Homo sapiens: one gene and its partners. The protein of the gene in region 1 interacts with the protein of each later gene in a biochemical or structural test. Each region holds a gene or a part of one and is shown in the gene's direction. Other genes may lie near its edges.

Region 1 (3,500 bases):
AAAAACCATACTTTGAATTTTGATTTTTGTCTGAGCTAGCAATATGTGCTATGATACACTGGTGATGCTAGGCAGTGGCAGCGAGTCACAGCTCCCAGTCAGCCACACAATCACGAGAGTGAACAACCAATACTCTATAGTGGACTGTGTTGTCAGATGATTTTGCGGAACAGTAGGCTAATGTAGGTATTATAAGCACATTCAAGGTAGGCCAGACTAAGCTATAATGTTTGGCAGGTTAGGTGTATTAACTGCATTTTCAACTTAAAAAAATATCATCAACTTAAAAGGGGTTTATCACGACATAACCTCAGCGTAAGTTGAAGAGCATCTGTGTATGTGTGTATTTCCAGGAGTTGATATTGTCAATGGTGTTGTCAATGTTAGTGACATACATAGTCACTTCTTGTTATTTGAGGTAGTTATGCTCTGTTAAGTTGCTACAAATATTGAATTAGCAAATACTAAAACACTGCTTCTAGAAGAAATATGTAGTGTGTTTATATGTATATGTATGTGTGTATATATATCCATCCATCACTTTAAAAACGTGAAATTCATGCATTTTACATAATTCAAAAATCTTAAAATCTAATTTACCATTTTCTTTTGTTCGTTTGTTTTTTGTTTTTGTTTTTGAGACAGAGTCTCGCTGCAGTGCCCAGGCTGGAGTGCAGTGGCACGATCTCAGCTCACTATAGCCTCCGCTTCCCAGGTTCAGGCAGTTCTCCTGCCTCAGCCTCCCAGGTAGCTGAGACTACAGGCACGCGCCACCATGCCCAGCTAATTTTTGTATTTTTAGTAGAGATGGAGTTTCACCATATTGGCCAGGCTGGTCTCGAACTCCTGACCTCAAGCCCACCTCAGCCTCCCAAAGTACTGGGATTACAGGCGTGAGCCACCACTCCTGGCCTAATTTACTATTTTGTATATTTTAAAAATTCACACCCAAGTCAGTTCAGTCCTGTCTGCCTTTCCTACTTTTTTATAACTCACAAATCCATTCTCTCCTTTTCCACCATAGAATAAGTAATGGTTGATATTCTTAGCTTTTCAGTAGATGTGATGGTTGAAATCATGGGCTTTGGAGTCACACTGACCTAGTTTTAAACCCTGGCTCTACCCCTTAATGGCCATGTAATCATAGGAAAATTATTTTTTGTGTCTACCCTCCATTTTCTCACATGTAAAATTGGTGCAAGAACCCCATGAAGCATGTACTTCGTGGGATTACTATGAAGATAAACAAAATTATACCTAGGCCTTAGTCAAGCACTCAGCCCACACAGTCAGCTCCACCTGCCATAACCTCCTCCAGTGCTCCCCACACTTATTATATAACCTCCTCAGTCACCTCTCTGACAATACCTGTTTTGTATTATCACCTCATTTCCTCTATTCTTTCAGACGTCCCATGTCCGTTCTCTACGTGGTTCAAATTCTTATTCTCTTTAAGGCCCCCATTTTGTGCTTCTCCTGCTTGGGCACCCCCTTTTTACTCATTCCAGATTCTCATAGCATTTTAGTACATACTTGTTTCTGACACTTTGTTTCTTGTTTGCTAGTTATGTTCCTATCTTGCTGCCTCTTTCAAACTAATTCTCCTTGAGGTCCATTCATGTCTGATTCATTTTCTTCTTCCCAGAGTCTTATACAGAAGTTGCTCAATAAATACTCATGGCTAGGATCAATTTGAAAGTTTGATGTTATTTTAAGAGTTTTGATGAGACCCTGGAAACAATTGTAAATAATTTTCAAATTGGCACAGTTCATATTTTAACAGATTTCATTGCATTCTCCTTCCTAGGTAGAGTTTAAAGAGAATTGTACTGTAACATTTTCAGTTTCCTTAATTTGGAGTAAATACTTTGAGGTTTTTGGAAGCACCCCAAAGCTTTCTCAAACACTTCCATACCCTGTTTATGGTAGTATAAATTGCCATAGCACGTTTTTTTAGAGAGTGATTTGGCAATATCTGCCAGAATTTTTAATGCACTTATTCTTTGACTCAGCTATGCCCATTGTTAGGAATTTACTCAAGATTACCTCTAGAAGTACCAAGTGCCAAGTTCAGGATTATTCACTCTACTCAAGAAAGTAATTAAATTATCCACACTATACAGAAATTAAACGAGTATGAAGCTGTTGGTGTTGATTTACAAAGTGCTACAAGATACATTAATAAGTGAAAAGAGCAAGGTATATAAAGTGATCCTGGCCAAGCACAGTGGCTCATGCCTGTAATCCCAGCACTTTGGGAGGCTGAGGCAAGAACAAAACTTGAACCCAGGAGTTGGAGAGCAGCCTGGGCATAGCGAGACCCCATCTCTACCAAAAAAAAAAAAAAATTAGCTGGGCATAGTGAGACGCACCTGTGCTCCAGGGTACTCAGGAGGTTGAGGTGGGAGGATCGCTTGAGCCCAGGAGGTCAAAGCTGCAGTGAGCCATGTTCATATCACTGCACTTCAGCCTGGGTGACAGTGAGAGCGAGACCCTGTCTCTAAATTAAGTTTTCTCTTTTGTAGACATTTTAGAAAATCTTAAGTCTGTGAATATATTGGCCTTTTTTCCTCCACAAAACACACACAGACACACACACACCCCCCCCCCCCACACACACACACACAAATCATCAGTAAGTTACATTTGGGGAAAAGAAGGAAGAGGGACTTTTTTTGTTTTGTATTTTTCCTTTTTGTGGTGTGTAAGATGTGTATATATCAGCTGAGTATATCATGATACAGGATCACAGACCTTAGAGGATTTTTCTTTATATTACTTTGCATTTTTTAACCCAAAGCATTTATGAAATTACTGGGGTAGGGAAAAGAGAGTTTTCTTGTGATTAGGAGTGGATAGGTGAGTTTAAAGTATTCAGACTTGATATTAGCCCTTTGTCAGATGAGTAGATTGCAAAAATTTTCTCCCATTCTGTAGGTTGCCTGTTCACTCTGATGGTAGTTTCTTTTGCTCTGCAGAAGCGCTTTAGTTTAATTAGATCCCATTTGTCAATTTTGGCTTTTGTTGCCATTGCTTTTGGTGTTTTAGACATGAAGTCCTTGCCCATGCCTATGTCCTGAATGGTATTGCCTAGGTTTTCTTCTAGGGTTTTTATGGTTTTAGGTCTAACATTTAAGTCTTTAATCCATCTTGAATTTTTTTATAAGGTGTAAGGAAGGGATCCAGTTTCAGCTTTCTACATATGGCTAGCCAGTTTTCCCAGAACCATTTCTTAAATAGGGAATCATTTCCCCATTTCTTGTTTTTGTCAGGTTTGTCAAAGATCAGATGGTTGTAGATGTGTGGGATTATTTCTGAGGGCCCTATTCTGTTCCATTGGTCTATATCTCTGTTTTGGCACCAGTACCATGCTGTTTTGGTTACTGTAGCCTTGTAGTATAGTTTGAAGTCAGGTAGCATGATGCCTCCAGCTTTGTTCTTTTGGCTTAGGATTGACTTGGCAATGTGGGCTCTTTTTTGGTTCCATATGAACTTAAGTA
Region 2 (3,500 bases), on another chromosome or scaffold:
TGGATGCCTTTTTTCCTCTCTTACCTGATTACTCATCTTCCATCTAAAAGGTGGAAAGGCTTTTTGTTTTTCTGCATTCAGTATGATACTAGCTGTGAGTCTGTCATATATGGCTTTTATTATGTTGAGCTATATTCCTTCTATACCAAGTTTTTTTGAGGGTTTTTAATCATGAAGGGATGTTGAACTTTATCAAATGCATTTTCAGCAGTAATTGAAATGATTAAATAGTTTTTGTCCTTTATTCTGTTGATGTGATGTAGCATATTGATTGATTTGCATATGTTGAACTATCTTTGCATTCCTGGGATAAATCCCACTTGGTCATGATAAATGATCTTTTTAATGTGTTGTTGAATTTGGTTTGCTAGTATTTTGTTGAGGATTTTTGCATCAATATTCATGAGATATATTGGCCTGTAGTTTTCTTTTTTTGATATGTCTTTGTCTGGTTTTGGTATCAGGTAATACTGGCCTCGTAGAATGAGTTTGGAAGTATTCCCTTCTCCTCTATTTTTTGGAACATTTTGGGTAAGATTGGTATTAGTTCTTCTTTAAATGTTTGGTAGAATTCAGCAGGAAAGCCATCAGGTACTGGGCTTTTCTTTACCAGGAGACTTTTTATTATGGTTTGGATCTTGTTACTTGTTATTGGACTGTTCAGGTTTTGGATTTCTTCGTGGTTCAATCTTGGTAGGTTGTATTTGTCTAGGAATTTATCCATTTCTTCTTGATTTTCCAATTTACTAGCATGTAGTTGCTCATAGTAGCCACGAATGATCCTTTGAATTTATGCAGTATCAATTGTAATGTCACCTTTTTAATCTCCAATTTTATTTGAGTCTTCTTTTTCTTAGTCTGGCTAAATGTCAGTTTTATCTTTTCAAAGAAACCAACTTTTTGTTATGTTGATCTTTTGTATTGTTTTCTTCATGTCAGATTCATTTATTTCTGCTCTGATCCTTATAATTTCTTGTAGTATTTTTATAGTTTTGGGTCTTATGTTTAAGTCTTTAATGTATTTTGAGTTGATTTTTGTGTATGGTGAGAGGGAGGGGTCTGGTTTCATTCTTCTACATGTGGCTCTCCAATCTTGCCAGAACCATTTATTGAAGAGGATATCCCTTCCCCAGTGAAAGTTCTTTGTCACTTTTGTTAAAGATCAGTTGGCTGTAAACAAGTGGCTTCGTTCCTGGGTTCTCTATTCTGTTCCATTGGCCATGTGTCTTATTTTTATAACAATCCCCTGCTGTTTTGCTTACTATAGCCTTGTAATATATTTTGAAGTTAGGTAATGTGATGCCTCCAGCTTTGTTCTTTTTGTTTAAGATTGCTTTGGCTATTTGCATTGAACCTATAGATTGCTTTGGGCAATATGGTTATTTTAACTATATTATTCTGATCCATGAGCATGGGATGTTCTTTTGTGTCTTCAGTCTCTTTCATCAGTGTTTTGTAGTTTTTTGTGTAAATAAAATTCTTATATAATTCTAAGATTTTTGGAAAAAACTCCCAAATTTTGCCTAGGCTTACTGAGCTGCTTGAGCAAAGCATCTCTGAATAGAGCCAAGCTGATGGTTTGGGCCTTCTGACTCTACAGACCCATGTTTTCCCTGCCACTGATAGCTGGTGCAATCTTTTAGCCTCTCATTTATGTTGGGAACCAAACATTATGTTGGGAACCAAAACCAGCCATTTTCAGATGTCTTCAGCTGAGAATAGCATTAGCAGCTGCATGCTTCTTCCTCGTAGGCCTTACTGTGACAGTAATGAATTTGACATAACAAGAAGTGGGGTATATATGAAGGTGAGAGTCAGCAGTGGAATCCTGTAGACTTCAAGGAAAACATACAAAGCCTTGGTTTGGGGGCTTGAGCATTCTTAAATATGCTTTTGCTTGAAGCAATGTATTAGGATTAGTTATAAAACTAGTTCCATCAGTTATTTGGATACTTGACATTTTTGCTTTGTTGTGAGAACTGCCTGAATTTTTCATACTTTTTCTCTTTTTAGATATGTGATTCTGTTGGACTGGCAAAACAGATAGCTTTGCATGCTGAACTGGTAAGAATCCAAGATGTGGCTGGGCACAGTGGTTCACACCTGTAATCGCAGCACATTGGGAGGCCGAGGCGGGCAGATGACTTGAGGTCAGGAGTTCGAGACTAACCTGGCCAACATGGTGAAACCCCATTTCTACTAAAAATACAAAAATTAGTTGGGTGTGGTGTCGTGCACCTGTAATCCCAGCTACTGAGGAGGTCTGAGGCACGAGAATGACTTGAATCCGGGAGGCGGAGGTTGCAATGAGCCGAGATCACACCACTGCACTCCAGCCTGGGCAACAGAGCGAGACTGTATCTCAAAAAAAAAAAAGGAATCCAAGATGCTTGATTTTCCAAGAATGTTAACTAAAATAGTATATTAGCTCTTTCATATTAGCAAGTAAATAAAATGATTTTGCTAAGCAAGGTTAACAGTGATACTATTACCAACATAGCATTTAGAATTTGGATAATTGTTTACCATTGAATATAAACTGTTGATGTGCTTTCTTATGTATAAATGCAAAAAAATATTGAAAGGTTACCATGTGATATTAACTGAAATGTCTAAAATTTAAAGTTATTTCATATTTAATTCATTAGTTTTATTCATCTGTTCTTTAGGATCGTAGGGCATCAGAAAAACAAAAAGAAATAGAGAGAGTAAAAGAGAAGCAACAGAAAGAACTCAATAAACAAAAACAGATTGAAAAGGTATACAGTCCTAATGTCTGGATCTTTATGTGTTGTTTGTGAAGACTTAATTCAGCACTATGACTTTCAGATTTGAATTTCCAAATGAAGGGCTGTTTCTGCTTGTTCAGCCACTTCATAAACAGATGATTCATACCATAGCAGAAAAGGGTCACATCTGTTTTTTGATATGATGTTTACATTATAGTTACGTTGACATGTAATATGACTGTTTCAAAAATATACCAGAACTTTAATATTTCAGAGGAGGTTGTCTCTGTCAAAGCAGTTGAGAGGCTGTGTAGACTTAACTGCCATTGCTGAAAGCCATTTTGCCTTCTATGGGGGGGAAATAAATAAATATATATGTTATATGAAATATATAATGAAATGTATATTTTTAATATTGCCAGGAGTGTCAAATCATTGTCCATCCAACAGAATAATTTTAAAAGACAAATTTCAGAGCAAAACTTGAAGAATGCATTAAATGATCCATGAAATTGTAAGAGCGTGTTATGGGTTGTAGATTGACAGTAGGAATAGAAAAGAGGAGACAGCTGGGATGCTTAGAACAGATCAATAAGCATTGGCTGTGGGCTGGCTCTCTGGACAAAGAAGAGGGAAGTGGCAAAGATGACATTGAAGTGAGGCTTTCTTGATAGGCGAGGCTGAGGGAAGGTGACACCTGATTTAGCAAAGATGAATTGGACAGGGATGGAGAAAAGGGCTGGAGAGGGGAAGGGAAAGGAGTGTGGGGGT
Region 3 (3,500 bases), on another chromosome or scaffold:
CCTCCCAAAGTGTTGGGATTACAGGCGTGAGCCACCACGCCCGGCCCAGAGTGACATTTAAGAAGATGATCTGGGCTGGGCGCAGTGGCTCACACCTGTAATCCCAGCACTTTGGGAGGCCGAGGTGGGCGGATCCTGAGGTCGGGGGTTCGAGACCAGCCTAGCCAACATAGTGAAATCCCGTCTTTACTAAAAATACAAAAAAATTAGCCAGGTGTGGTGGTGGGCACCTGTAATCCTAGCTACTTGGGAGGCTGAGGCAGGAGAATCGCTTGAACCTGGGAGGCAAGGTTGCAGTGAGCCAATATCGTGCCACTGCACTCCAGCCTGGGCAACAGAGCAAGACTGTCTCAAAACAAACAAGAAGATGATCTGGTCAGTCTTTGAGACAGAGACAGTGATACTTGCTCTTTCCATCTCCTAGCCCTGCCACCAAATTTTTGTCTACTTTTCTTGTGGTTTATATAATTTCTGCCTGTTATAGAACTTGGTTTGGGGACAGGTGCGGTGCAGTGGTTCATACCTACAATCCTAGCATTTTTGGGAGGCTGAGGCAGGTGGATCGCTTGAGCTCAGGAGTTCGAGACCAGCCTGGGCAACATGGGAAAACCTTGTCTCTGCAAAAAATACAAAAAGTAACCAGGTGTGGTGGCTCCTACCTGTAGTCCTAGCTACTTTGAGGGAGCTGGGACAGGAGGATCTCTTGAGCCCAAGAGACGGAGGTTGCAGCAAGCTGAGATCATGCCACTGCACTCCAGCCTGGGCAACAGAATGAGACCCTGTCTCAAAAAAAAAAAAAAAAAACAAAACACACACACACAACAACAATTTGGACTTGGGAGGCTCAATCTCGCATGTCCATGGGGACCATAATTGAAATGATCCTCCTGAGGATTTCCAAGCCAGGTGGTGCCTGACTCGTTATGCTGCCATCACCTTGTTTTCCTATGGAAATGCAGGCGCAGCATTGCCTAGCTTCTCCACCCCCCATGCCCAAGCAGGACAGGAAAATTTCACAGGAGGTTTCACAGGTTTTAATTATCTTCAAAAATACTTCAGGTCAAATAGCATATATCCACTAGCCAAATACGGCTGTCAGGTTTATATTCTTTCCCTAGAGCTGGATGGTTTCAAAGGGGCACACTGTTGTCTTGCCATTATAGTAGTAGGTAACTTTGGCCAACTATATCAAGTAAACCTCTTACTTACATATATAGATGTCAAGTTAGGATTTTAGAGTGGTATTCGGTCTTGATGGCTGAATTTCAGTATCTAAGAAAGAAAGCTCTCTGCTAAATTGTCATAAAGAATATTTTTTCTCAGTCTGACAGTGTCTGAAACTCAGACTTCAGAATAACTGCCCTTTTTGTTAATGTGACACAGATGAATTACATTCATCTGTGTCACATTAACAAAAATGACTCATTAAAAATGAGTCCTAAAAATGACTCATTAAAGAGGGCTAGTTGCGCTATAGTTTCTGCTGTATTGTATGGCTCTAAAAATCTGATTCTGTACTGTGCACTGATTCCACCTCTCAGAAACAACTCTTCAGCTCAGTGCATCTGCGTGCTCTGTTCCGACAGACTTACAAATGTTCTGAGCACTTGGTCTGTGCCAGCCTCCATTCGTGTGCTGTCTGGGTTTCTCAATCTCCATTTAAGGGAGGCATCCTTAACTTCATTTAAGAATCAGGCAGCAGACTGGGTGCAGTGGCTCATGCCTGTAATCTCAGCACTTTGGGAGGCCAAGGCGGGTGGATCACGAGGTCAAGAGATTGAGACCATCCTGGCCAACATGGTGAAACCCTGTCTCTACTAAAAACATAAAAATTAGCTGGGCATGGTGGCGCACGCCTGTTAGTCCCAGCTACTCGGGAGGCTGAGGCAGGAGAATCACTTGAACCTGGGAGGCAGAGGTTGCAGTGAGCCAAGACTGTGCCACTGCACTCCAGCCTGGCAACAGAGCGAGACTCCATCAAATAAAAAAAAAGAGAAGGCAGCAGAGACAGATTAATTTTCCCAAAGTTACATACCTAGCATCACAAACAGTTGCACTGGGGATCCGGTCCCTGGCAACCTGCTCCGGATCCAGTTGCTAGGCTGTCCTGCTTCTACTGAAAGCCAGTCTTTGCATCTAGAAACAGTTGCTGAGGCTGCATGTCTCTTTTTGCCCTTAGGATTATGATGTTGATGAAGAGGACATGATGAATCAGGTGTTGCAGCGCTCCATCATCGACCAGTGAGCAGAGTCCGTGCTTGCTATCTGTCTCATGTTACAGAGCTTCCATTACATATTAAACGTGAAATCTATGACTCCTGTACCTTACCTGTTCAACAGACCTGAAAATGAGCCATGGCATTGGGACAGGGTCACTTCTGACAGGGGAAGTGGGTCCCCAGGTCAGCCCTTCTCTTCCCTTTGGGCTCTTGCCAAAGCTGTCTTCCCCTACTGTTAACCTTGTTTGTCACACGGTCGAGTTCGTATTGGTTCTCGGCTACTTCCTGGAGCTTCTGCCGCCTCCTGTGGAAGATAATCTAGCTTCTCCACCTCTTGTTTCACACTCATTCCTCCCATCCAGTGTTTGTCTCTCGGGTCCTTCAAGCCAGCCAGGACCTTTTCTGGGTCATGAATAGCACAATGAAGCAAGTGTCTCCTTTCCTTGTCCCCAAGGTGTGCAGACTTTGGCAGCCGTGCACCTGACCAGAGCTGAAGCTCCCGCTGGGCTGTGGGGTTGCCAGAAGCTGGGGTTGCCATCCCGGGGTACATGTCACCAGTCCTCTTGGGGTTTTGTACCATCTGATGCTGGAAGTTTTGATTAGTGATATTTTCTACTACTACATATTTAGAGTTCACTGGTTCAGTCTTAAATGCCTGCATGGTGCCTTTTTAGGATAAGGTATAACCATACATTTTTGGTGGAAGTGTTTCTGGGTTAGGGAAGTTAAAGTCTGTTTATCCGTAAGTGGGGAGGAGGGTCAGCTAAGAGAAGTGGGAGGGCCAGAGCTTTTTGGTTCTGATTTACAAATTAATGAAGTAGTTTCAAACAACGCGGTCATGTTTACCTCTCCATTTGGGAGCCTGCCTACATTCTTGTTCTAGAAGCACAAAAAATCCTCAGATGAATTAGAAGAAAGAGGTTTGGGGACTCAGCGGATACTAGTTCTTTTACCTTCTGCTTGGTAACTTAGATTAAACTGAGCATTGTTTTTCTGTCACAAATGTTTTCCTTATGACACTGGTTTCGACATGTAAAATGTGTTTGAAAACCTGCTTTGTAGATGCAGAGAGAAGCTATAGGAAACCCAGTACCACCCCTGGTCTGTTCTGACGAGACATCGTTCATAAGGCACAGCACATCGCAAGATGAACAGTTGTTAATAAAAGCTGTTGCTGGAAACTTGCTTTAGGAACAGCTCAAGAACCTTGGAGTTCATATTTCACAAATATTAATAAATATAAGTCCAAGAGCTGTCAGCCTAATCTGTAGGAGCAGAACC
Region 4 (3,500 bases), on another chromosome or scaffold:
TTCCAGGTGTGAGCCATCGCGCCCGGCCGAGGCCCATATTTTTAAAGCTTCGTATGTAATTATTTACTTAAGAACCTTAGTTCTTCATCAGGTTGTGTACACTCAATATGTATAGCCTTTTGCAGGTCAGACATATCTCAATAAAGTAGTTTCGTAAAAAACACAAAATGCTTTTAGAGCTAAGAAAACTCTCTTAAATATCTAATGAACTTCTAGTTATCCTTAAAAGGAAAACTTAAATGCAGTGAAAAAAAAATGAGGTAAAAACCTGTTTTTATTATTACAAACCAACAAAATATATTTCCATAATTTAAAAACTGCTTTAATCTGGAATTTTCCCTGCTTTACATGAGAATGCATGCAATGCAGTGTAGAGCCGTTTGCTTTCTTTTCACCCCAAGCAACTATTTCAAGGACCCCCTTTTCACAAACTCATCACGGTGAGGTGAGGTTATAGGGAATAACTAGCCAGATACTGGCCGGGTGCGGTGGCTCATACCTGTAATCCCAGCACGTTGGGAGGCCGAGGCGGGTGGATCACGAGGTCAGGAGATGGAGACCATCCTGGCTAACATGGTGAAACCCTGTCTCTGCTCAAAATACAAAAAATTTAGCCTGGCGTGGTGGTGGGTGCCTATAGTCCCAGCTACTTGGGAGGCTGAGGCAGGAGAATGGCATGAACCCGGGAGGCGGAGGTTGCAGTGAGCCGAGATCGTGCCATTGCACTCCAGCCTGGGCGACAGAGCAAGACTCCACCTCAAAAAATAATAATAATAATAATAATAAATAAAAACAAAACTAGCCAGATACTCCATTTTTTCCATGTAAAGTGGGCACGGACTGTGTTCAGATTAACGTTTAGCAGAATGAGGGGCCAGCACCCTGTAGATGAACAGCTAGGCCCAAGAAACTTGGGGCTAGAGGGCACCTGCTTTAGAGTCTTGATCACCAGTTTGAGACAAGGAAGCAAAAAACCTTCATGTTCAATTTTCGAAGAATGACAAAATAAAGTTAGGAGGACTGGTATAGCTGTGTTTATAATGAAGACCCTTTGGATCCCTGTGTGGGTCTGTCGTTTAACAGAAGTGCTAAATGGAAGGATCTAATGAATACTGCAGAAAATTAGGACATTATGTGTTTTAGACTTTGGGTAGTTAAGACTTCAATCTCTTTAGATTAAAAAAATGCATTTTGAAATACAGAAGTAGACAAATCCAGCCTGTTGCCTGTTTTTTTTTTTTTTAATAAACTTTTTTTTGAGACGGAGTCTTGCTTTGTCGCCCAGGCTGGAGTGCAGTGGCGCGATCTCAGCTCGCTGCCAGCTCCGCCTCCTGGGTTCAGGCCATTCTCCTGCCTCAGCCTCCCGAGTAGCTGGGACTGCAGGCGCCCGCCACCACGCCTGGCTAATTTTTTGTATTTTTAGTAGAGACGGGGTTTCACTGTGTTAGCCAGGATGGTCTCGATCTCCTGACCTCGTGATCTGCCTGCCTCGGCCTCCCAAAGTGCTGGGATTACAGGCATGAGCCACCATGCCTGGCGGCTTTAAATAAACTTTTATCAGAACACAGCCACTCTGATTTACTGACAGAGCCGAGTAGTTGTGTCAGAGACTACATGGTCCACAAAACTTAAAATATTTACGTCAGGCCCTTTACAAAAAAGTTTGCTGACCCCTGCTTTAGAAAGTTAGCTTGCTCTATTGTTCAATAAACTGCAGTTTAGGAAATGTGACTTGTATCCATTGCAGTCTATGGCTACAAAACAATGAGTTCAAATACACTTTCTAAATATCCTTTGGGATTCCTTAAAAAATACCAACATGCAGAATATTAAAATATATTTAATGTAAAGGGAGATTAGTATAAAGTTTCAGGATAAGTTTCTTTAATGCTTCAGTATGGAGATAACATGAGTTTAGCATATGTTTAACTAAAAATGAAAACCATCAACAGCCTATTTCATTGAAAAGCGTTTTTCAAAATGCCCGTTGACAGAAATAACTTTGAAAAAAGGATTCCAGAGTGGTGATTTTTCTTGTTTTTGTAACTGAATACCTCTACAGAGAAAGTTCAGTATGCTTATTAAAATTTTAGAATTGAATATGATTTCTCTTTAACCATCGCAGGTGTATGCAGGGCCTCCTCCAAGTGGTGCCTACCTGGTTGCAGGGAACGCGCAGATGAGCCACCTCCAGAGCTACAGTCTTCCCCCGGAGCAGCTGTCTTCTCTCAGCCAGGCAGTGGTCCCACCATCCGCAAACCCAGCCCTTCCTAGTCAGCAGACTCAGGCCGCTTACCCAAAGTAATTTTACTGTTGATTCTTGTTTGGAGTTAGTGCTGTTACAGCTGTTTAAGTGCCCCCAGTTATCTATAACTATAAAATCTGGCTAATAAATATCTGTGGTCAGCGTCATGCGGCCGCCCCATTTGTGCTAATGAGTGGTGGAGCCTCTGTGGTATTCCAGTACCAGCCAGCAAGCTGGTCCTCTGCTCCCGACTCGCTCAACTCATGTAATCTGGTTTCAGCCTTATATTTTTAATACTACTCTAACCATAAGTTTTTATTGTTGTTTTTATTTGCATCTATGATATTTGATAATGTCTTTAATGAAATTTATGTTTAGTGACTATAATTTGTCATTTTTCCACACATTTTGTATAAAATCTAAATTCCGTTATTTTAAAATATATAGTTCTGAGCTGTCTCTTTAAGACAAATATTTTCTTATTTTTGCCCTGTTTTGGAATTTAGTTTATATTATATCAAGGTACCCCATTTGAAACAAGAAGATAATAAGAAGGTAAGCACCCTTGTTTCTCAGGAGGCAGATGGCTGAATATGTGATGACAGAGGCCCATTTACTTTGCCATTTACTTACAGTGCTGTCTGTCATGTAGTTAAATGATTATTGTGTGTTTTTTCTGCTTTAATGGGACTCTGAGCTGAAATCTTTTCCTTGAAGCAAATAAAGGATAGGCTTTTAAGAGTTTACCAACGTGTATTCTAGAAGTTACGACATTCTAGCTGGCAACAGAAGTTTCTAGGTAGCACAGGCACAACTTCTAGAAACCTTTCCAGCAGTGTTAGGATTGCCCAGGAATGCTCCTGCACTGCCCTCTCTTGCACTACTCATCCTCAAAGAGTTACGTGTTAGAGATGCTTGGGGATTTTCAAGCATTATTCGGTTGTCAGATCTAGTATCCCGAAGTGACCTTAAGGGGGATGATGGCAAGGCCCACATGTCAGAAAACAGGGCATTCCCTAGTGGGTTCTGTATCTTAGAAAAAAGTGTTAAGTGTAGCTTGCACTCTTGCAGGATTTTTTTTTAAGTTGAAATCTGGTGGAAATGAATACCCTTCTGGAAAATAAACAGCTGTTCTTAGAGTAGCATGTTGCTTTACAACTAGATACAAAGGGGCTAGAAGGTAGGAATTGTTGAGAAGACACTAGGGTTCCTGACTTAATAGGACCCTGCAGCTATTTTAGTATTAGCCGGAACT
Region 5 (3,500 bases), on another chromosome or scaffold:
TTGCTAGGAGGGGAGAGGGGTAAACAGGAAGTGAATGCTAATGGGTATGGGGTTTCTTTTTGGGGTAATAAAGATGTTCTGAAATTAGGTAGTGTTGGTGGTTTTACAGCTCTGTGAATGTACTAAAAACTGCTGAATTGTTTACTTTAAAAGGTAAACTTTATGATATGTGAATTATATCTTAAGAAAACTGTTATTCTAAAAAAATAAATTCTTTAAGGTACATCTCAGTGCTTCTTCCTTTATGTAACTTTTCCTTATCTGTCTTTGACGTTTTCTTCCTCTTATACTCCATAGCACTTTTGAGCAGCTTGAATAGGACTTTATAGTCTGCCTTTTATAGGATAATTATTAGCATGTCTTGTTTCCCCACCCTCCTCCTTTAATTGCAGACTCCCTGAAGGTACTTTTAGTATTCCAGCTAGTGCAGTGCCTTGTACAAAGTAAGTGCTTGGTAAAATATTTGTTAAAGTCTGGATTGGGAGGAAGAGATGTAAAAAAATGATAATAATTTTAATTTAATGTAAGAGCTATAAAATCTGCTAAAGGGGAGTGGGTGAGGTCAAGGAAGAGTTTTAAGTGGAAGTGATGTTTGAACCAAGTCTGTTTTGGGTTGAGTAGGGTGTTTCCCACCTGGACACAGCTGGTAGTAAGGTGACACATTACAATGAAAGGGAACAGTCATTGCAAAGAGGCACATGGTCCTCCTATTTCAAACCTCTTATTCTGTATGTAACATGATACTGTGACATTTTAGGAGTCTTATCTTATCATCAAAGGTCTATTAATGATGATTGTTTAAAAACATTTTTGCGAAGTTAGCAACTCTTGAATAGTAATTTGGAGAAATCTCAAACTTTGCTCTTTAGTTGAGATTGATATTTTGAAGAACTCATTATTACTTGTGTATCTATTTTAGGATGGCTTTAGATGACAAGCTCTACCAGAGAGACTTAGAAGTTGCACTAGCTTTATCAGTGAAGGAACTTCCAACAGTCACCACTAATGTGCAGAACTCTCAAGATAAAAGTAACTTTATTTTCTGTATATTTAGCTTTAAAACCTTCTTAATGCTTTTGTGATTATTTGTTTGGGTGGGCCTTCACAGAGGAAACAGGTAAAATGTGAATACTTTGCACTATAAATAGACCCATTTGCAGAGAATACGATTGGATTTAGTTCTTAATTCAGCTGCCTAAATCTCATACAAACAGACATACATCTCTGCTTAACACCCAGAATAAGCTTGAGGGCACGGACTGTGAGCCTCAGTGTTCGAATTATATGTTGTTGTACAGTGAACATTTAATTTCTTCATCAAATGATTTGATCTGTACAGTCCTAACAATCCATCTCCATTTTTTCCAGATCAGTTAAACATACCCTAATTATGGTAATTTTTATTACTTACAAAGGTCAAAGGTATTAATTTGGTTAGCAAGTTCAGTAGACTTAAGAGAATGGCTTTTGGATTTCTCTGTTGATTTTCTCCTTTGATTTTTCTGGCAATATATTAATATTCTAGAGAGGCAGAAATCATTATTCCTGAAAAAGATACTCTACTGCTAAAATGCTTTTTGGCTTAAAGTTTTTATGTTGGGGGATATTTTAGCTTATTATCTTATTTAGGGGTATACATGGAGCTTTTTTCTTTGTTTCTTAAATCAGTACTGCCTCCTTATTTATTTATTTATTTGAGACAGGGTCTCTCTCTGTCATCCAGGCAGGAATACAGTGGCATGATCATGGCTCAATACAACCTTGACCTCCTAGGCTCAAGCAGTCCTCCTGCCTCAGCCTCCTGAGTAGCCGGGACTACAGGCATGTGCCGCCATGCCTGGCTAATTTTTTATTTTGTAGAGAGGGGTCTCACTATGTTGCGCATGCTGCCCTCAAACTCCCAGCCTCAAGCAATCCTCCTGCCTCAGCCTCCCAAAGTGCTGGGATTACAGGCGAGAGCCACCTTATCTGGCTGCCTCCTCTTTAAAAAGAAATGAAAGTTTGATTAGGAAGACTTTTAGTAACCAAGAATCAAAGAAACATCAAAAGAGAATTATCATGAATTACATTTAAAATGGAGGCACTGAAATTCATCTCTCTCTTTTAAGACATTGTAGAATGTATAAGGGGAGTTCCTTAGAAGTATTAATATTATACCATTTCTTATTAAATAATGCACCTTATAGCATTGGAATTTAATAGTACCAATTATTATGTCTTAAAGTCCTCTTAGAATGCTTTGGGTCATTTTAAGGTTATTATAACGATTGGAGAGTTCTTAACGTTAGTAAAAGCATGGATTTGCCTACACAGAATTGATAGTTTATTGACCATTTCCTGTATATTAGGCACAATAATAAGCAATTCCTATGTGAGATCCACATTTGGTCTTCTGTAATACCACTGGGTAAGACACTATTTTTATCTCCACATTATAGATGAGGAAATTCAGTCTTAGGATAAGCAACTTGCCCATGGTCATATAGCCAGTTTACATGGTAGAGCCTGAATTTAAACATGTTAGATTTCAGAGCCCAGACTTCTAACCATATGTTAACCTCTCTGAATAAAATTATTGTGCCAGTTGGAGTTTGGGATCATTTATTTATATCTAAATGCTATTACATTTTAGTACTAATTTTCCTATATCTAGACATTGATTAAGATATATCTGAATTTTCTTTCTTATTCCTTATATTTAGGCATTGAAAAACATGGCAGTAGTAAAATAGAAACAATGAATAAGTCTCCTCATATCTCTAATTGCAGTGTAGCCAGTGATTATTTAGGTAAGTTTTTTATATTAATAATTTTTCTCATCAACAATGCTGTTTCTCTGACTTTTGTTTAAATTGCTGAAATTGTGGCTAGAAGCAAGTTCTTTAAATTTGTCAAGACTCTCTTGATGTCATGGCCTTTATTTCTTTGTGTTTTAGTCTCATTCTGTCGTACTGCAGACACACATTCTTCCCTGAAGGGTCATAACTACCCGTGGCTTCTAGTTGGAGCAACTGACCTTTGAAGAAAGGGGCTGCATATTCCCAATTCTAGTTTGAAAATTTTGGGGGAAAGATTATCTCTGTTTGGGTCTTGGATTTATCCCTAAAACTAGAGGTGTTCCCAGGGCACTGATGTACCATGGTTGACCCAGATTGGGCTAATAGTCTATTACTGGAAGCATGGGAGGGATGAACCTGGGCAAATAAAAACAATAGCTGTAATAGAGTCTGGTCTGCAGTTCTTGAAATATCAGTTGTCACAGAAAGTTTTCCATTGATTTTTATGCCTCTCCTGAAGATTTGGATAAGATTACTGTGGAAGATGATGTTGGTGGTGTTCAAGGGAAAAGAAAAGCAGCATCTAAAGCTGCAGCACAGCAGAGGAAGATTCTTCTGGAAGGCAGTGATGGTGATAGTGCTAATGACACTGAACCAGACTTTGCACCTGGTAGGTTTTATTCTACTTCGAAATTAATTCTATGGGAATTCAGTCAAAAAAGT
Region 6 (3,500 bases), on another chromosome or scaffold:
AAAGTTATAAAGCACATTGTAAAATTTTCTTCTTTTGAGTTATTAAAGAATGAAGCGAATAGTACATATGGTTAATGACAGTTTAGCTAATTCATATAGAAATAGCTAATTAATACAGAAGTGACACAAAACTTGTGAAAGGAAGATTGAGTGCCAGTAATCCATAGCATTTCACCTGTTCTTTTCTGAGAATCTGTTACTTTATTGACTGCTTAAGGATTCTGATTTGTTTAGAATAGGAAGTATTTAATTAATTTCTACTATCTATTCCAGTTGTATATGTATCAGCTGTTCCGAAGTTTAGCCTATATCCATTCCTTTGGAATCTGCCATCGGGATATTAAACCGCAGAACCTCTTGTTGGATCCTGATACTGCTGTATTAAAACTCTGTGACTTTGGAAGGTAAGCTACTGTCCCTCTCCCTGCCCCTTCCCTTTTCCCCTCCTCCCCCTACTATCTTCTTTTAAATATATTCCTTTTGCAATATCAGCCTAAACACAGTAATTCTTATTCAAGAAGTATAAACTAGTGCAGCTGTGAGAGTAGTTTTGTTAGTTTCTGTCAAAATTATAAATGTATATACTCCTTCATTTAACAGTTTAACTTTTAGGAATTATTTCCTTAGGAATACATATTTACAATACAGTGTATATATAGGGATTTTTATTATAGCATTGTTTATAAGCATCCATTAGTAGGAAAATGGCTAAATAAATTACGGTACATGCAGAGTAATACATGCAACCATGAAAAAGAATGAGGCAACTCTCTGTGAACTGAAAGGGAATGATGTCTAGGAAACATTAAATGAAGAAAGCAAGATCAAGAGTATATGTATTGTATGCCACCTTTTATGTTTTAAAAACATACAGAATGTGACTATATATATATATATGTACACACACACATATATACACAAGTACATGTGTGGCTTATTTCTGAAATGGTACGTAATCCATAATATTTGATTGCCTGAGAAAGGATCTTTGGGAATATAATGTAGTTGGGAAACTCACTTTTTCATTGATTGTATTTTAGTATTGTTTGAATTTACATTAGGTATATATACTCCTTTTTCAGTAAGAACTAAATTTTTTCAAAATATTGATTATTATACATTCCTGTGTATCTTTTTAACTTCACAATTAACCTCAATTCAGGGATGAGATAAAAAACAATGCAGTGTTTTCTTCATTTTCCTCTATAATTTAACCTTTTATTCCACCCTTTTTCCTGCAAATTTCATCAAACTTTCTGCTTTTAAAAGCTCATTTCTTGGTAATATACTGTGAATTTGTAATACAACTTTATTCTTTCCATTTTCAGTTTTCAGTACTTTGTGCCTCTCTGATCTAACCTTTTAACATGTAGTCAAGCCTACATTCCCATGTAACTCAGGCAGTTACCCCGCTACTTCCTCACTGGTGTAATCACCTAATCTCTCTCCTCATGGTCCCTAAGACATCTTTACATAATTTGGATTCTCTCCAATTTAATTTTTTCACCCTTGTTACAGATTCTTTTCACCATAGCTCTATAGATAACATATTGCCCCACACTTGTTAATACCTGTGTTCCTATCCCTTTGTAATACTTTTACATCAATTCACAGTTTAAATTTGGGGTTTAACATAGGATATGTTTTCCACAGGCTTCTCTTGAGACAGATCCTTTAAAAAATAAGTAAATCTGTTCTGTCATGAGTTAATTTTTCTTAGTCTCACAATGTGTCCTCTTTCAGACTGTCCTCATTTTACTGTTTTCTAATTTCAGATGACCTATCACTTTGCAGGCCATGACTCTGTTCCCTGAACTATTTTTAAAAAGGGTGAAAGATAGTAAAACTCTTACCTGGTGTTTGAAACAAAGCACTACTACTTGTCTATAGGAAAAACTGCCCAAATCAGATATGTTTTATTGTTAATGGGGTGTCTTCACCATTGAGAGTGACTGACTTGGTAGGGACAGACTGAGACACCAAGGTTAGAAGAGCTTCTGTTCTCATATAGTGTCAAAACACTTGGTACAGCCCATTCTCTTGGGACATAAAATAGCTTTATTCTGATAAATTTGGAAGAGGGATTTCGCTTGTTTGATAGCTCATTTTTATAAACCCTCTGATTTTTTTGTTTTTAACAAAATTGGTTTGGTCAGATGGAGTTTGGGAAACACTTTGGACTGTACATTATCAGATTGGTAATTTGAACAAAATACTATTACTTTCTTCTTATTTTTTTACTAGATGAAAAGGGGCCAAAAAGTAGCTAAAGAACTAGTTGGGCTATTTAGGAACAAAAAGCTAGATGTGATCACAATATTGGGAAGTAGTTAAAACCAGTCTCCTCTGTAAGAGAGGCTGCTCCGTTTTTGTAGCTCCATCAGGTAGTGAAAAAACTTCAGGCTACAAAGCTTGGGTATTAACGTTTTGTCTCGTAATGAATTTTCTGAACATAATTAGCATCTATCTTGTTAATTAAAAAGCATCCTTTAGAAGATATAACAGTCTCCTATCAATTATGCTGAAAACTAAATGTCATAATTTTCATGCAGCCTAAAAACAGGGATTAGTATTTATTAATTTATGAAATGGTTATTGTATGTCAGTACTTGGGGAGAGGGTTAAAAAACAAACTTCAAAACTAGTGATGAAGGAAAAAGAAGTTAAGGTTAGAGTCATCATTGACTAGAAATAAATGGAAGAAAAGAAATCCCAGTCATTGAAATCCTTGTGACTACTTTCATCTGTCTTTACCCTGGTTTTCCAGTACCTTTACTTTTTTTTTTTGGCACTTACTGTTTTACTGTTTTGATTTTGTTGCATTTTGTCCCTTTATTTATCTTTATTATTAATGTATGTCAGAATGGCTGGCTTCTACAGCAGTTTATTTTATTCTGTCTTTGGATTATCTTGGGCGACATCTCAAAAGAAATTAATTGTAATTTATTATACTTCATATTTAAAATACATGCAATGAAGTATTTTAGTAGGAAAATTGGAATAAGAAAACATGCAATTATACTTACTATAGCAGAGTTAGAATTTATAGGCAGTGAATCATTTCTGCCCTGAAGTTGAAGGGCCTGTTTATAATTTATTGGGTAATAAATGTTTATGTGGTTAATAAATTGACCAAGATATGGAAAAATAGATTGAGTCTATAAGCCTTGAAATATTCGCCGTGAGTCAGAAGTCAAAATGCAAGACAGTGGCCAGTTTCTCACCCTTTTTAAAGAAATACATTGGGTGAGGAGTATTCATTCTTAGAATCCATTGTCATGCTTTTTGGTGGGGGAGGTACCTCTTTTCTGCCCTTGCTTCTTTGTATTTTAGAGGTGGAATTTGGGGAACAGAGGATCAGAAGAAATTCAACACTTATCCTTTTTTGCTTTTGGTGCCTTCTTAGGTGACAAACGCTTTCTTTAAAAATTGCTATTCTTTTTTGCAGAGCAAGGTGATAAAATTGTAAATTTCTTTTATTAGAGATAGTTACAGTTTAC
Region 7 (3,500 bases), on another chromosome or scaffold:
GCTGGTCTCGAACTCCTGACCTCAGGTGATCTGCCTGCCTCAGCCTCCCAAAGTGCTGGGATTACAGGCGTAAGCCACCATGCCTGGCGGACTAAATCTCTTGTAGCATTTGTAAAAACCCATGACGGTCAAGATATTTTTATTAAGTATCTGATAAAATAATTTTTTTCACTCACTGCTTTTCTTAAATAGGGAGAAGAATAGTATTTCTAGTATAATAACAGAATTCTTGTCACTTTGCTTTATGTTACTAATCATTATAAACATTTGTTCATCATTACTGTGAAGAATAAGGTTATTTTTTTTAAAAGCCTGGAATTTCTGTATACCTTATTAACTGACTACATGTTTTTGATGGGTGATATCTGCCTGAAAAAACTTGAATTATAATTAAACTCTTATACCCCATGTTAATATTAGCCCACTCGGTATACAGACTGTTAAAAATTATGTCACATCTTACTTGACTCTGATTACCACTGTACATTTGTATTGGAATGGGTAGATGGTATATCTTCAATTTCATATATTAAGAAATGGACAAACAGAAATGAATGATTTGCACAAACTCACCTGATTAGTGTTATGATTGCTTTCTTATTTGGCCTTAAGGTCTGTCTCTGGAGAGTGGCTATAAATTCTAATCCTGCTGTGTTGTGGCTCAAGAGGAAAAAATCTCGTGAATGTTTTCAGTGTGCGTTTCACAGGATACTTCTTTATCCTGGCACACCCATGACCAGGTGTCCCTCTCTCAGGGAACTTGTTTATGGCAGATGCCCTTGTGGCTCTTTTCTGACCTGTGTCCAGTTTATTCCTACTAAGATAGCTACTCTCTAGGAGACCCTGACTAGGAGGAGAGCAAGGTTTGGGTGTGTTGGTCAGGTGACACACAGAGAAGGCAGCACAACCAAACACACGAAATAACAGAAACTTTTTATTACTCACAGACCCTTGAGAGAAGAGCGGTATGCATGAGGGCCAACAGGAAGTCTGGAGATAGCAGAGTGCTCAACCAGTGGGTGGGGCGAGGGTGGGTGAACAAGGGAGCACGAGCAAGGGAGAGGTGATTTGTGTGACTGCCTTCACGAAAGTCTATGGGTGTTCTTCCTTTGGCTTTCCAGTGGGGCCTGTGGATTGACTAGTTTAAAGAAAACAAGTGTGAACAGGGGAACATTTACATGGCTCTAGTTTTACATGACTCTAGTGTTGACCATTGGATTTTCTCGTGGTCAGCAGCTGTGGGGGTGTGTTGGGTTTTGAGTCAGTGAGATGAGAAACAAGTATACTGTATTGCAGACAACCGCATGGGGGAGAGAGAAGTTTTAACTAGGCCAAAGGTGGTGGGATACAACTAGGTTTCAAGCAACTTATGTCAGGCCTAAAAATAAATGCTGAAGCAACAACTATATAACAAATTTATACAAGTGGTATTGAAGGTGAGAGTAAAGCAGGGTCTTCTGCTTTTAGCTCCTTATTCTTTCTACCTGACTCTACTTTCTTTATACAATACTAGAAGAATCAAGGTCTAAAAAATAAATCTAGTATGAAGGACCTGAGTTGCTTTCTTAGCCTTGAATTAGTTTGGATCTTACTATTTATTTAGAAAGAAAAAAGAAGAGCAATATTGATAGTATTCACAACTCGTGGTTATTTATGTTAATTATCCACTTATTGACAGCATTTAGTTGAGTTCATACTTTTGTATTAGGCACTGTGATCATTGCTTTTCCTACGTATTAATTAATTTTCAACACTGTTATCTCCATTTTGCAGATGAGGAAACCGAAATGTAAAGTTAAATACCTTGTTAAAGATTACTCTCCTAGTGAATAGTAGAGCTGGGATATAAACCAAGTGTTTCTGTCATCAGAACCTGTGCTCTACAGTGCTAATTTAATTTCCATCCTTAATTGGTTCGATCTGCTCCGTCTGGGGCATGAATACATTTGTTTGTTTGTTTTAAGATAGGAAGTAGGAATTGCTTTATTTTTACTTTTTTTATAATTTCAACTATTATTATAGATTAAAGGGTACATGTGCAGGCTTGTTACATAGAATTTGTTGTGTGATGCTGAGGTTTGGGGTACAAATGATCCCATCACTCAGGTAGTAAGCATAGTACCCAATAGATGGTCTTTTAGCTCACACTCCCCTCCTCCCTCCCCGGCCTAGTAATCCCCAGTGTCTATTGTTGTCATCTTTATGTCCATGAGTATCCAGTGTTTATTTCCCATTTATAAGTGAGAACATGTGGTTTTCTGTTCCTGCATTAATTCGCTTAGAATAATGGCCTCCAGCTGCATCCATGTTGCTGCAAAGGATATGATTTCATTTTTTTAGGGCTGTGTAGTATTCCATGGTGTATATATTAGCATGTTTTCTTTGTGCAGTCCACTGTTGATGGGTACCTAGGTTGATCCCATGTCTTTGCTGTTATGAATAGTGCAGTGAACATGTGAGTGAGTGCATGTGTCTTTTTGATAGAACAGTTTATTTTCTTTTGGGTATCAAATGGTAATTCCATTTTAAGTTTTTTGAGATATCTCCCAAAAGTGGCTGAACTAGTTTACATTCTGGGACATACATACCTTTGAATCAAATCAAAGCAATGTGGCATATCATTTTGGAGTGTCAGTTTTTTTTTTTTTTTTGAGACGGAGTTTCACTCTGTCACCCAGGCTGGAGTGCAGTGGCGCAATCTTGGCTCACTGCAACCTCCGCCTCCCAGGTTCACACCATTCTCCTGCCTCAGCCTCCCTAGTAGCTGGGACTACAGGTGTCCGCCACCATGACCGGCTAATTTTTTGTATGTTCAGTACAGACAGGGTTTCACTGTGTTAGCCAGGATGGTCTTGATCACCTGATTTCGTGATCTGCCCACCTCGGCCTCCCAAAGTTCTGGGATTACAGGCGTGAGCCACCACACCTGGCCAGAGTATCAGTTTTACCAAGAGTTGAGAGATAAAACATACAATAGATCTCAAATTCTTCTGATAGAAATATGAAACTCAAGTCTTCCAACTCACTTCTTGTCACCTGTGGCCTGAACTCTAATATTCATTCATTGTTTTATGACCCTGAGGTTACTTTGGATCAGTCATAATTAGAAAAATAGTTCTTTATTTGTAGCAAGAACAGGAGAAATTCAGAAATGCCTTTCAGGCCAAAAGTGAATTATTTTTAGATTATCATATTAGAAAATAGGAAGTGCTTTGTTGGGTTTTATGGCCTACTCTAATGAAAAAAAAAAAAAAAAACTTACCTAACTACAATTAGCTTATTAAAAGTTTGGGATTCACATAACTAGGAAATACTGGATTTTAATGTAGATTTTGTACTTCTGGTCCTTAATGAGAACTTAATATGATAAATAGCATATTTTTAACAGTGATTCTCAGCTCATTTATTTCTATTGTATTATTGCTATTCTTTTTATCCTTTCTTCCAAAGATTCATGGAATTTAAATAAAAACCAGGTAAGTGAGAATTTAGTTAAGTAG

Evidence for each region.
Region 2: of the proteins of MAP3K1 (region 1) and APPL1, one has a biochemical effect on the other in vitro, tested with the Homo sapiens proteins (one large-scale study listed by BioGRID).
Region 3: of the proteins of MAP3K1 (region 1) and RNF114, one has a biochemical effect on the other in vitro, tested with the Homo sapiens proteins (one large-scale study listed by BioGRID).
Region 4: of the proteins of MAP3K1 (region 1) and STAM, one has a biochemical effect on the other in vitro, tested with the Homo sapiens proteins (one large-scale study listed by BioGRID).
Region 5: of the proteins of MAP3K1 (region 1) and RAD51AP1, one has a biochemical effect on the other in vitro, tested with the Homo sapiens proteins (one large-scale study listed by BioGRID).
Region 6: the proteins of MAP3K1 (region 1) and GSK3B form a complex in vitro, tested with the Homo sapiens proteins (one study listed by BioGRID).
Region 7: of the proteins of MAP3K1 (region 1) and SPART, one has a biochemical effect on the other in vitro, tested with the Homo sapiens proteins (one large-scale study listed by BioGRID).

Annotation. Positions count from the first base shown.
Region 1 is NC_000005.10:56,888,549-56,892,048, forward strand, and holds part of MAP3K1 (mitogen-activated protein kinase kinase kinase 1), read left to right. Parts: intron 1-3,500. UniProt on the Homo sapiens protein: Component of a protein kinase signal transduction cascade. Activates the ERK and JNK kinase pathways by phosphorylation of MAP2K1 and MAP2K4. May phosphorylate the MAPK8/JNK1 kinase.
Region 2 is NC_000003.12:57,265,729-57,269,228, forward strand, and holds part of APPL1 (DCC-interacting protein 13-alpha), read left to right. Parts: intron 1-2,013; coding exon 2,014-2,064; intron 2,065-2,613; exon of another isoform or gene 2,614-2,669; coding exon 2,670-2,759; exon of another isoform or gene 2,760-3,500. UniProt on the Homo sapiens protein: Multifunctional adapter protein that binds to various membrane receptors, nuclear factors and signaling proteins to regulate many processes, such as cell proliferation, immune response, endosomal trafficking and cell metabolism.
Region 3 is NC_000020.11:49,949,897-49,953,396, forward strand, and holds part of RNF114 (E3 ubiquitin-protein ligase RNF114), read left to right. Parts: intron 1-2,179; coding exon 2,180-2,245; 3' UTR 2,246-3,500. UniProt on the Homo sapiens protein: E3 ubiquitin-protein ligase that promotes the ubiquitination of various substrates. In turn, participates in the regulation of many biological processes including cell cycle, apoptosis, osteoclastogenesis as well as innate or adaptive immunity.
Region 4 is NC_000010.11:17,706,651-17,710,150, forward strand, and holds part of STAM (signal transducing adapter molecule 1), read left to right. Parts: intron 1-2,125; coding exon 2,126-2,301; intron 2,302-3,500. UniProt on the Homo sapiens protein: Involved in intracellular signal transduction mediated by cytokines and growth factors. Upon IL-2 and GM-CSL stimulation, it plays a role in signaling leading to DNA synthesis and MYC induction. May also play a role in T-cell development.
Region 5 is NC_000012.12:4,545,390-4,548,889, forward strand, and holds part of RAD51AP1 (RAD51-associated protein 1), read left to right. Parts: intron 1-392; coding exon of another isoform or gene 393-443; intron 444-919; coding exon 920-1,029; intron 1,030-2,702; coding exon 2,703-2,789; intron 2,790-3,297; coding exon 3,298-3,447; intron 3,448-3,500. UniProt on the Homo sapiens protein: Structure-specific DNA-binding protein involved in DNA repair by promoting RAD51-mediated homologous recombination.
Region 6 is NC_000003.12:119,912,948-119,916,447, reverse strand, and holds part of GSK3B (glycogen synthase kinase-3 beta), read left to right. Parts: intron 1-273; coding exon 274-404; intron 405-3,500. UniProt on the Homo sapiens protein: Constitutively active protein kinase that acts as a negative regulator in the hormonal control of glucose homeostasis, Wnt signaling and regulation of transcription factors and microtubules, by phosphorylating and inactivating glycogen synthase (GYS1 or GYS2), EIF2B, CTNNB1/beta-catenin, APC, AXIN1, DPYSL2/CRMP2, JUN, NFATC1/NFATC, MAPT/TAU and MACF1.
Region 7 is NC_000013.11:36,308,395-36,311,894, reverse strand, and holds part of SPART (spartin), read left to right. Parts: intron 1-3,500. UniProt on the Homo sapiens protein: Lipophagy receptor that plays an important role in lipid droplet (LD) turnover in motor neurons.